Linked DNA regions of Homo sapiens: all the other regions are reported to be linked to region 3. Evidence: microRNA targets listed by miRTarBase, many of them from high-throughput screens and not tested one by one. Region 3 holds a microRNA gene; each other region holds the end of a gene's coding sequence.

The links. The annotated mature microRNA hsa-miR-631 reads AGACCUGGCCCAGACCUCAGC and lies in region 3 at 2,445-2,465, shown strand. An mRNA with a match to its seed (bases 2 to 7 or 8) in the 3' UTR can be bound and repressed. Matches are read on the target gene's strand: a 7mer-m8 pairs with bases 2 to 8, a 7mer-A1 pairs with bases 2 to 7 and ends in A, and an 8mer does both.
Region 1: miRTarBase lists ZNRF3 as a target of hsa-miR-631. Seed matches in the 3' UTR shown: 8mer at 1,487-1,494, 7mer-A1 at 1,561-1,567 and 8mer at 1,617-1,624.
Region 2: miRTarBase lists ZNF449 as a target of hsa-miR-631. Seed matches in the 3' UTR shown: 8mer at 2,275-2,282.

Annotation. Positions count from the first base shown.
Region 1 is chr22:29,052,838-29,056,837 of GRCh38, forward strand. ZNRF3 (zinc and ring finger 3) reads left to right here. Exons shown (of 9, transcript NM_001206998.2): 9 at 742-4,000. The coding sequence ends at 785. Among named protein-coding and RNA genes, the nearest start is that of C22orf31, 7.0 kb to the right of the region's middle. RefSeq lists a silencer at 2,364-2,658.
Region 2 is chrX:135,360,640-135,364,639 of GRCh38, forward strand. ZNF449 (zinc finger protein 449) reads left to right here. Exons shown (of 5, transcript NM_152695.6): 5 at 1-2,774. The coding sequence ends at 437. Among named protein-coding and RNA genes, the nearest start is that of ZNF449, 18 kb to the left of the region's middle.
Region 3 is chr15:75,351,966-75,356,114 of GRCh38, reverse strand. It overlaps MIR631 (microRNA 631), which reads left to right and starts at 2,430; the gene lies at 2,430-2,504. It overlaps NEIL1 (nei like DNA glycosylase 1), which reads right to left. Exons shown (of 10, transcript NM_024608.4): 3 at 3,885-4,004; 4 at 3,728-3,791; 5 at 3,414-3,513; 6 at 2,249-2,376; 7 at 1,838-1,865; 8 at 1,623-1,684; 9 at 1,297-1,462; 10 at 1-1,151. The coding sequence ends at 1,081. MAN2C1 (mannosidase alpha class 2C member 1) reads left to right here. Exons shown (of 26, transcript NM_006715.4): 25 at 1-5; 26 at 83-323. The coding sequence ends at 209.

The sequences.
Region 1 (4,000 bases), not on the chromosome of region 3:
TTAATTAGCTGGGCACGGTGACACATGCCATTAGTCCCAGATACCCAGGAGGCTGAGCCCAAGAGATTGAGGCTGTAGTCATGATCTCACCACTGCACTTCAGCCTAGGCAACACAGCAAGACCCTGTCTCAAAAATAATAATAAATGTTAGCATCTCACTCAGTTCTGTGTGATCCAGCTCCTGCCAACCCATCTGATGAGCTCCTGGTTCACTCTCCTTGCTTCCTGCTTTCACCTCCTGTGGCCCCTGTCCCGTTCTTCCCATGTGCCAAGCTCATTCCAGCCCCCAGACCTGTCCGCTACTTTTCTCCTCCAGATCTTAGGTTAGGTAACACTCCAGCCCCCTCTGAGATCACCTACACACCTTCTGTTCACTTCTGTCATCCTATTGCTAAATTACTTTGTCTCAAGGTTCGTAATCTCTGTGAGGGAGTCCTCTCTGCTGCTTTTCCCAAGGCCTGACGCACACCGGGCACCCAGTTAACATCTTTAATATATTGGGCTTTCGTGCTACCTGAGGGCTTCTAGAAAGCTCTCTACATCCAAGTGAGAGGCTGGCTCTCCAGGAGGTACCTGTGCTCTCAGCACAAATGGAGCCCCTCTGGGAACAGGAACCTGCTTCAGCCCTTTAGCATACACAGGCCTGCCACATGCTGGGGACAGGGCCACCTGAGTCCCTTGCCTGGTCCCATGTGTGGTGCCAGCTCCCTCCCCTGATGATTGTTCTCTCTCTTTCCCAGGACCGAGATCTCACTCAGCAGACAGCAGCAGCCCGGGAGCCTGAGCTCAGGAGGAACTCTTACCTGGAAATTGGGAACTGTATGGAGACTCCAAACTGACTTCTTTCAAAAAACAAAAACAAAAAATTTTTTTAGCTTTGACAAACACACAAAAGTGGTAATAAAGAGAGCCCTCCTTGTCAACCCAAAATGTGAGCCCCCTGTGGCAAAACCACCCCCTACCCCATTAACAAATCAACAGACAAAATTCTCCGAGTCCTTTGCCTCTTTTGATAACATGTTGTTCTGTTTTGTAAAGTGTGTGTGCTTGGGGTTCCGAGGTGTGGGATTGAGTTCTCTGCTTTGTTTTTTTTTAAGATATTGTATGTAAATGTAAAAAGTTATTTAAATATATATTTTAAAGAACCCTAACTGCCAACTTTTGCTGAAAAAGAAAAAAAAATCACTGCTGCATTAAATGAACCACATCATGTGTAGATACTGTTGTCTCCCTGAAGGGAGCTCAGGCCTTTGAAAAGCTCAGGGCTTCACCTGCCTTAGAAAATGAACCAGAAACTTGAAGTAAAGCTAGTTGATAGGGGTACAGGCTCTGAGGAGCAGTGCAAAACTGCCTCTTTCTTTCTCGTGGCAAATCCCAATGTACACGATTTCAGGTCTCAGACGCCATGCCTCTCCAGCCCACGCCTTTAGGCAGGTGATGGCAGCAGCTAGGAATAGGGTGTACATGATCCACAGCCCTGCGGAGCCAGGTCAAGCCGCTGCTATGAAAGCTCCAGGGTGATGGGGACGATTCTGCCCAGTGTCCTCAGTCTGTCCCCTCAGGTCATGGTCCCAAGTGAAATGACAGAGTTCACAGCCCTGGTCTTGGCTGAGGTCCAGGTCATAGTAAGGGCATGTTCTTGGGGCCCTCGACCTGAACTCTGACCCTCCGGGCAGGGAAGAGGAGGTTGTCCCCTTTGGTTGTCCTGGCTTTGGAGTCCTTTGCAAAAATATTTTGGGCCCCCTGCCACTGGCTGCAGAAATGGCTCGACGGGGTGTGTGGGGACAGACACCCAGAAGGAATGTACTTTTGTGGCCTTGGTGTCCGATGGGGCTGGGGGAGAGTGCTCTCCACTGACCCAGCAGCACACCCATGTGCAGTGCGCCTGCATCTGTGTGGGGGCAGCCACACCCCTTGGCTGCTGCTTCCTTGGGCTGCCTTTCTGGGGGCATGTGACTGGACCTACGAGGTCTGCACTGAGCTCCATTTGAATGATACCTTTCCTATCCCATTTCCCCCACGGAAGCACCGCTTCAGGGTTATTCAGTCCTCTGCCTCATGGCTGAAATTGCTCATCTCGTCTGCAGATGTCTACTATCCTGTCTACCTAATGCACTATTATGTATTGATTCTCCATGAGACAGAGAGAGAGAGAGACTATCAGATAGTTTACACCCAAAGGGTAGGTTTTTGTATATTTTTCCAGCCTTTTTTATTAAGGGGAAGGGGAGAGTTTAAAAACCCAAACCGTTGTGGTTTTAAGGTGTTTCATTTTTAAAAGGGAGAGAGAATCTATTTAAAGCTATTTCAGATCAGGGATTGTCATCCTTTTTTGTCCAATGTATTCCTTGTTCTTTAAAAAAATTTTTTTTAGAGGAAACTAATATTAGTCTTTGTGTTCACTAACTCTTCTGGTCACTTGTATTTATTTATTCATTCATTCATCAGATATTTGTTGCCATCTGAAAGAACTGGCCCAGTGGGTCTGAAAGCTCGCTTGAGAATAGGAAACTTGAGACCTGGCCCCCTGTGGGTAGGAGAACAAGGACCACCTGGGTTCTCCAGTCTTGAACGAGAATCTCACTCTTATCAGAATGTTTTTCTTAACCTCAGCGTATGATGAGGAAATTTACTTATCTCTAGCTAGGATTTGACAAATTCCAACATCAAATGATCAAAACATTTGCCACTGAGGCTTCACTGGTGAGATCCGTTCTCCGTCCTCGGGTGCAGTCCCTTGGGGGCTGCTCCTCGGACTGCGCCCCGCACACCTGTTATCGAGGGTGTGAGAAGCGCCTAAGCTGGTGACATGTGATCTGGGACGCCTTCATTTCTCGGGCCAGGAGTAGCAGCTGCTAAGGACAGCAGCTTGCATTGCGTGGTTTTAGGGAAGCAGGGTCTGGCTTTTAATATGAACTGCAAAAAGCAGCTTCTCACTGATATTTTTTTGTTGTTGTTTCTGGGGGGTTTTTTTGTTTTGTTTTTAATGCCTTTGAGTGCATATTTTCTTCCTCGTCTGAAACCGAACTCCCAAAGTGGCTTTCTTTAGCCCTGGCTGGAAAACCACCTCTCAATAGCCTTAAGCAATAAATAGATGAGTAGAGAATGTGGCTTCAACTGGGCTTATTAAAGTAAGTGTGTCTAGTTTTCACTTGAACAAGTGATAGCTGCAGATGGCGAAAGAAACCCATTTAATTTTTGTAGCTTACAGGTGGTAGAAACAAAAATGCAATTTTAAAACCTTAAATACCAAATACCAACCATTGCCTTTTTTTTTTTTGAGATGGAATTTTGCTCTTGTCACCCAGGCTGGAGTGCAATGGCGCGATCTCACCTCACTGCAACCTCTGCCTCCCGGGTCCAAGTGATTCTCCTGCCTCAGCCTCCCAAGTAGCTGGGATTACAGGCATGCGCCACCACACCCAGCTAATTTTGTATTTTTGGTAGAGACAGGGTATCTCCATGTTGGTCAGGCTGGTCTTGGATTCCCGACCTCAGGTGATCCGCCCACCTCGGCCTCCCAAAGTGCTGGGATTACAGGCGTGAGCCACCATGCCTGCCCAGCAATACCAACCATTGTCTTTTAAATTCGTGTTGGCTTCTCAGACAGGGAGATCACTGGAATAAAATAACCGATGGTCTTATTTTGTCACACGTAAATCAAAAGAAATGTCCTCTTTGAAGTTGTAAGACTCCACCAATGACAGACACCCTTTTCGGTGGACTCTGAGTGGTGTGTAGTGGTTTTATAGCCATGGAAACTAGGAGTATCTCACTTTCCACTGAGAACCCCTGCCCCCAATCCCTCTAAGTTGGGGTGTGGCAGTTGGGCAGGGTCAAGTGACCCAGCCCTGGCTGTAGGACAGCCATATACAGTGAAGAGTTCTAGAACCAGCTAAAAATGGAAGTTTGGGTGTTTACCAACAAGGTACCTCTTTATGGATGCAGCCCCAGTAAGCTGGCTTTAACTCTCAGCTCCTTCCCTGTCTCCTCCTAATC
Region 2 (4,000 bases), not on the chromosome of region 3:
CAGGGGAGAGACCCTATGAATGCACTGTATGTAAAAAGCGATTCACTCGGCGGTCACATCTTATAGGGCACCAGAGAACCCATTCTGAAGAAGAAACATATAAATGTCTTGAGTGTGGGAAAAGTTTTTGTCATGGATCAAGTCTTAAAAGACATCTGAAAACTCATACAGGTGAAAAACCTCATAGATGTCATAATTGTGGGAAAAGTTTTAGTCGACTGACAGCTCTTACTTTGCACCAGAGAACGCATACTGAAGAGAGACCTTTTAAATGTAATTATTGTGGGAAAAGTTTTAGACAGAGACCAAGCCTCGTTATTCATTTAAGAATCCACACAGGGGAGAAGCCATACAAGTGTACTCATTGTTCTAAAAGCTTCAGACAGAGAGCCGGCCTTATTATGCACCAGGTCACTCACTTTAGAGGACTTATTTAAGAATTGCTAAGGGAAACAGGTCTTACACAAATTGACACTAACTCAAAAAAAATCTTAACCTGCAGCAGGCTGTTTGTCTTGGAAGCTTTTGTTTGAGCTTATAAGAACATAGACAGCTTTTTTTTTTACTAGTTTTAAAACCCATCTTCCAAGGTATATGAATTCTAGAGTATTTATCTACTCCTGTGATTTTCTTAGATTTGATTTCTTCTGTCTGCACAACTCTTCTTTTTTTAATTACAATGAAAAATTTTGTGTTCCAAGGCAACTGTATCATAGGTGTAAACATAAAGCATATAAATTATGACAATCCTTTTAGAGGTAGGGTCAATATAGTGGATAAACCTGTCTATCAGACGTATTGATTATAGCAGTACTATAGTTATTCTGCTGTCATTATTAAAGATGATTATATTCATTCAAAGCTTTAGATGTGTCCCATGTGGCAAGAAAGGAGACAGTGAATTTTGTCAAACAATAAAAATGTGTCAGGAACACAAGGATGAAGGGGATGTCATTTGCCTGGTAAGAACTGGGTTATTTCCACTGAAATTTGTTATGTTTAAGGAAATTAAGATTTTAAGCTTGAAATTATACAAGCAGAATCTAATTTAATTTTGATTGACTGAAGAACCAGGGTCTTTTGCTCTCCTTTGGTATTTCACTCTCCTTTGGTATTCAATCATGTGTCTTTTAGTGCTTTTTAAAATTTTACCCATTCTTTAATTCAGCATCTCCCTATGTATGTGTCATAGAATACTTAGTTCTGCTAGATATTCTGCAAATATATTTGGGAATTACTTCCTGCTGTTTCGCCTTCTTAGGTTCATAGTACACATCAGCATATGAGAATCTCTGAGAGGTCCTCTAGAAAGGAGAGAAAAAGCACCTCTTTTGGCTCAATGTTTTCCAAACTTATTTGACCCCAAAACCTTTTTCATATACCCAATAATAAGCTACAGAACTAATATTCTGCAAATGTCTCTTGGAACACACTGCCTTAAACAGATATTTCTATAGCTGTCAGTATAGTTATGTTGCTCCCAAGCCTAGTTATCTCCAGTTGTTTTAAGGGTGTTATGAAAAATTCTTAAAATATATATGAATTTGTGTAACACACACAGAGACACACACACATACTACTTTAAGGGGGTGAGGATCATTAATTCAGATAATTTTTAAGTTTCCTAGTGATTCTCAATCTCTTTGAATTTTACTTACATTTACACACACACGCACACACATATGTATATACACATATCATTTTAAGAAGCTGAGGATCACTAATTCAGATAATGTATAAGTTTCCCAGTGATTCTCAACCTCTTTGAATTTTACTTATAATTACATACACACACACACTGCTACTTATATAAATGTTCTCATGTAATCATGGTAACAGCTCAAATTCCCAAAGCAAGGGAAGACTTCTCATTGTCAGTTAAACCTGTTAAAACATGAAAATATTCATTGAGCCTAGTTCCTTGTTATAAAATACAAGAAATAAGACATTCAGGCATTTTCCCTTTATGAAGATGTTCAGTCATCCTTTCCTTGAACTACAATTAGGAAAAGTATATGTCTTTATTCCATTGAAGTTCTCGAGAGTGATATAAATACTTTGGGGGGTATCTACTATGTGCCTAACTAGTCCTGTTCTAGGCTTAGTGGAAGCTAGTAAAGAAATATAATTCATGGATCAGGCTCATAAAGATTTTATAATATTTTTAGTTAAACAAGAGTTGGGAAACAGGTGGAGAATAATGCAAGAGAGTTTGTAATTAAGTGCCAATTATACCAATTGCTAGACCCAGGATGTATCTTTAATTCTTGTCATCCAGGTCAACATATGATGCTGCTATAAGTCTGGGGCTCAAATTGATATCCCAGTAGCAATAAACATATAATATAGGAGGAGTCTGAATGTAGAGATGAAAAATACAGAATGTAATGGCTTCTCTTTTCTCTCTTGTGGAATTGCATTCAAACCAGAACAGTGCCTTAGAATGGATGTGCCCAACTGCTCTGTATTTATGCAATATTTGAATAAAGCGGAAATGTATGTGCTCTTCCTGCTTCACTTGCACTAATTAATTATTTGAACAACTTAGAGCTTCTTCCCTGAACAGTGGCAACAAGCATGGCAATTGACTCTGTCCTCATCCCAAGTTGGAATCGCTTTTCTCTCTGCAACCATGGCACTGTGATTATGCATCATTTTTAGCATTTAATACAGTCCATTTTTGGCTAGTAGGGTTAGTTGCAATCATAATATGAGTTGCATCCTCCCTCTCATTTATATCAAATATACTTGACTAGATTTTTACAAGTTAGAGAATGTCTAATATTCTTTGTTACAGTGCCCTATATATAAGAATAAATATTTCTGGTATTGAATCAAGAAACACATGAAATAGTTCTTGGAAACAGATAACATATTTAGAACATTGCATGGATAATTATACTTCTATGTCTAATTGTACTTCTGAGCATTTCAAAAAGATAAGGGCAAAATACAGTACCTACCTCCTAGCTATTATAAAGGGGAAATTACAGTACCTACCTCAAAAGTACTATGAAGATTAAATGAAATATATTTTGCTCTGGCCCTACACACTGTAAGCTTTCAATAAATATCCCCGTATTATATTCTCATTTTTGTAGTTTAATGATAAAAGCATTTAAAGCTATAGATTTCTTCTCTTTATGGCTTTGGACATACTTCATAGCTTTTATATGTAATGTTCTTATTGATGATTTCAAAATGGTTGTTGTTTTCATTATAATTCCTCTTTGACTTAAGAGATATACAATGTTGCCATTTTCCTCTTAATTTTTGGTTTTGCTACATTGTGATTAGAGAACAAGTTTCATTCTATTTCTGCTTTGAAAGCTCATTTAGGCTTTTTTAAAGACCTACATTTTATAAAATTTGTTAAGTATCCTAAAACCTTAGAAAATAAGGGCTCTATAGGGTGCAAATTTAGAATAGAGCCTTGGACCGCTCAATTACTTTAATGTCTTTAGGCGTATTCTTGGTGTTTGTGAAGGGTTGGTGACATCAAGATCGAATTGCTCCCCATTCTGCCTCCCTGAACCTTTGTACTCCCCCTTCCCTTGGTAAGTTTTTTCCACCACCTTTGGTCTGTTCTGTGGATGTTATACAGCAATTGTTAGTAGCTGCCTGGGCATTGAGGCAGGCAGTTAAAACAGGAAGCTAAAGGACCTAGGGGAGACCGGGACTCTTCAAACCAGGCTGAGAACGCTCTCCTTCAGGATCCCATAGTTATTTGTCTTTCTGAAAGCAGAGAGAACCTGCACAGGGCACTTTGAGGTTTTTGCGACTGTGGCCCTCCTGAATTCTCAGGGATTGTTTCATAGTGTACTGAGGATGTTGTGTAGGCTAAAATCCAGAGAAATAGGGAATAAACAGGGGAACCAGCCCCCAAGCCTCCCCATGAGGTGGGGGAAGAGAGTCATTACACTTTGTCCTCTTGCACCTGCACTCACCATAGAATCCCCAAGAGAAACAGTCTTGAGCACCTCCAGAAAACTGAGTCATC
Region 3 (4,149 bases):
ATCCTGTGAGTGGCGGTGTGGGATTGGGGCGGGGGTCGAGTCTCGCCCTCGCAGAGCCTTCATGGCCCCTCCTGTTCTCCAGCTGCGATCTCTTGGAGCGACCAGACCCTGCTGGCCACTTGACCCTTCGGGACAACCGCCTGAAGCTCACCTTTTCTCCCTTCCAAGTGCTGTCCCTGTTGCTCGTGCTTCAGCCTCCGCCACACTGAGTCCCTGGGGCTGGGGTTTTGTTTGTAGAAGGCTCTGGGGACTCCTAATTTCTGCTTCCCCAGCCTAAAGCAGGGATCAGTCTTTTCTTGTGGAATAAATCCTTGGATCGGGAACCCTGCTGCTCAGTCCCCTTAGGGCCCATCCTCACGCTTGGGGTGGGGGTGGGAAGTCTGGGGTGGGATGGCTTCCCAGGTATTTGGTGGGTAGGGGCAAGATCCTAAGGTACCTGTGCGTGCAGGGTCTGGGTTGCAGCCCCCACAGGAGAGACTGGGGACCTCGAGCCACCAAAAGCCAGTGAAGAGACCATGAGTTGAGAAGCCCCTCCCCTGTGCCAGCAGGTAAAGGGCCTGGGCCTGGGGCTGGGGAGGGGCCGAAGGGTGGGTTTTGCCTGGCTCCTGCCAGGATGAGGGGGCAGCCCTGGACCCTGGAGAATCTGGACTGGAGGAGCTCTGGCTCCTGGGCTGCCTGGGGCCAGGGTCTTTGTACCACCTCTGAGGGGCTGTCCTTGCAGAGGCAAACTGTCCTCTGATAGAGTCAGAGCCTTGAGGACTGGGATGGGGGCTCAGTTTGCCTTGTGAGGAGCTGGGCCTTCTGTCACCAGGACCGGACAGCAGGCCCTTCCTACCTGGCCATCTCAGACCAAGAGGTGCCAAGAAGTTCAAATGTATCAGTTTATTAAAAATGCAGCATTTTTCACATGAGCTTTAAAGATGTGGAAGATGGGGTACAATTAAAACCATGAGAGTTGTGCAGGGAACAGCCGTAGGGCCTGTTTGCACCTTCAGATATTGCCTGCTCCCAAAAATTCAGACCCCCAGATGCAGGGCAAGACAATAAGAAAGGGTGAGTGCAAGCAAGGAGAGCCTCCTGCTAAGAGGCTGAGGTCCCCTCTGGTTCCAAGGATGGGATGTCAGCCTTGACCTTCCGGGGTCTGCAGTGGCCTGGGGGAAGAACAGGCAAGATGGTCAGCTAAGACTCCAGGGGCTGCCATGGCAGCCTTTCTCCCACCTTTGTACACGCGCTCCTAGGCCACCATCCCATCCTCTCCTGTAGAGCCAGTTTCTGGGAGTGATGAGGAAAGCCCACCAGAGGCTGCCTGTCGCCCCTTCCTCCTCCCCTTCTTGGGCACTGTGGGAGCTTCTGGGTCCTGCTGGAGGCTGGTCCCCTCAGGCCGCTGGGTTGCAGTCCTCTTAGGAAGGTCTCTCTTTGCCCTTCGTGTCCTGGAAGGGGCCTTGCTTGGAGGCAAAGCGTCCTGGATGGAGGAGACACGGGTCCCTGAGGGGCTCAGAAAGCAGTTCAGAGGTTGGTTAGGGCCCACCACTCCCCCCGCCCTCTTAGGGTAAGGCAGCTGCCTGGGAGGGGCAGCCAGGGCTGCAGAGTGCAGGGGAGGAGGCGGGAGCAGGCAGCCATACCTCCACTCTGTCCTCAGGACTCAGCTGTGTGGCCTTGGATTTCTTTTTGCGGGACTTGCGCCCTGCAGGACACTGGTGTTGGAGTTGGAGGGTCCTATCCTGCCCAGGGGTGACTCCCAGGGTTGCAGGGGGATAGGGTGGAGAAGGGTGCTGTAGCCCTTGCAGGCGTGAAGTCCTTTCTGCTCTCTTAGCCTATTACATTAGGAGTAGCTTACCTTTGGGTGCCAACGGTCCAGGATCCCCCTAAAATGGGATGGGGATAATTCAGGAATCAGCCTGGGTTGGCACAGGGGCGGTATTCCTTGGAGAGGCAGGACTCACACACACCCATCCAGATCAGTGTAGCTTCTCCCTTAGGAAGCCTCTAGGACATCCCCCATGTTAGAGTCCACATCAGCAAAGCTGCTCTGCCCTTGGCTACTTTCACTTGGGCTACCTGCCTTGGGCTACTTCCACTAGCTGCAACCCTGGGACGCATGGGAGGGGAGGGGTGTGACCCTCAGGAACAGTGTGGTCCTTGGAGGGTCTAGACAGACCCTGAGCATCACCACCCCAGTTATTGTGACCCCACGTTTCCACCCATCAGCCTCCTGGGGTCTCTGCCTGTGTGAACAGTAGGGCCCAACCTGGAACCAGATGGTACGGCCATGCCGGTCCTGCAGGGAGCTCATGCCTGGCATGCCATAGCAGCGCAGCCAGGCTCGAAAGGCAGCAAAGTCCTCCTCCCCGCTCTCTGACCCGTAGCCTTTGCCCCCTGTGGGACAGAGGAACAGGCAGAGATCAGAGGGCAGGCTCAGGTTGGGAGGAGTGGGGAGCCTGGTTAGACCTGGCCCAGACCTCAGCTACACAAGCTGATGGACTGAGTCAGGGGCCACACTCTCCCTCCTCTGGTGATGTGACCTCAGCTGGTTTCTTCCCACTCGGCCATGGGTTTCCCATCCTGGAGTGGGATTAAGAATCCTTGTCCTGGCCCTGTGCAGTGGCCACACCTGTAATCCCGACACTTTGGGAAGCTTAGATGGGAGAATCCCTAGGGGCCAGGAGTTCAATACCAGCCTGGGCAACATAGGGAGACCCTGTCTCTACAAAAAAAATTTTTAACAATTAGCCCGGTGTGGTGGTGTGAGCCTGTAGTCCTAGCTACTTAGAGGCAGATGTGGGAGGATCACTTGAGCCCAGTTTGAGGCTAGTCCAGGCAACATGGCAAGATCCTATCTCTACCAAAAATATATATAAACGTGCGTGTGTGTGTGTGTGTGTGTGTGTGTATAAATATATAAAAGAATCCTTGTCCTGCCTGTCTCATGGGCAGCTTGGAGGAAACACTGTTTTTTTGTTTTTTTTTTTTTTGAGATGGAGTTTTGCTCTTGTTGCCCAGGCTGGAGTGCAATGGCACGATCTCAGCTCAACTGCAACCTCCACCTCCTGGGTTTAAGCGATTTTCCTGCCTCATCCTCCCGAGTAGCTGAGATTACAGGTGCCCACCACCACACCTGGCTAATTTTTTGCATTTTTAGTAGAGATGGGGTTTCACCATGTTGGCCAGGATGGTCTCGAACTCCTGACCTCAGGTGAGCCACCCCACTCGGCCTCCCGAAGTGCTGGGATTACAGGCATGAGCCACTGCGCCCAGCCTGGAAACACTATTGACAAGTGAGGAGGCCTAGTCCATTGAGTATCAGCTAGGGCTACAAACTTCCAAATCGGTGAATCAGGTCCAGAGAGGGACAAGTGCCCCAGGGTTACACAATCATTTGCTGAAGCAGAGGTTGCTGCCATCTTTGGCCTCACCCAACTGGACCACTTCCTTGGGCACTGAGTGACATAGCTCCAGCAGGTCTGGATTCTGCAGCTTGGTCCTTATCTTCTGGCTCAGGGTCAGCTCCGGGCTCTGAGGAAGGGGCAGGGGCAGGACCTGTCTGTCAGCAGGGCCATGTAAAGGCAGCTGACCTTCTCTCTGAGCTTGGTCAGACTTTGGGCAGTTCATCCCCTCCCCACCCCTGTTGTTGAGCTAAGCTGGGGACACCTGACCCCACCCATCTCCTTGCCGGCCCATGTGGACACCAGTGTGCCAGCACGTGTGCTCCATCCCTCTCTGGGCTTACCGGCCTGTGCTGCTGCAGGGCCTCCAGGACCGAGCGGGCCTTCTCAAAGGGGGGGATCTTCAGCCTGTAGTGGGGGCAAGGCAAGCCATGCTAGGCAGTGGGGAATGTGGGCACACCTGGCCCACCGCAGTCCCCATGCCCATGCCTGCTTGCTGACCGGTACAGGATCTCTGCCCGCAGATAGTTGCCAATGCCATTGAAGAACCTCTGGTCCAGGAGGGCCTCGCAGATGGGCCGGTCAAAGGCCTTATCCGCTAGGTTTCGTAGCACATTCTCCCTGGAGGAACACGGTCTGGGTGCGTAAGACCCATCCCCACCCTCCATGGGATGGGGAGAGGGGCTCAGAGAACCTGTTTCTGGGTGCAAGGGGAAGGAAACTGGGAGTTACAGTTCCTCTTCTCCCTGCCCCCGTTTTCCTATCT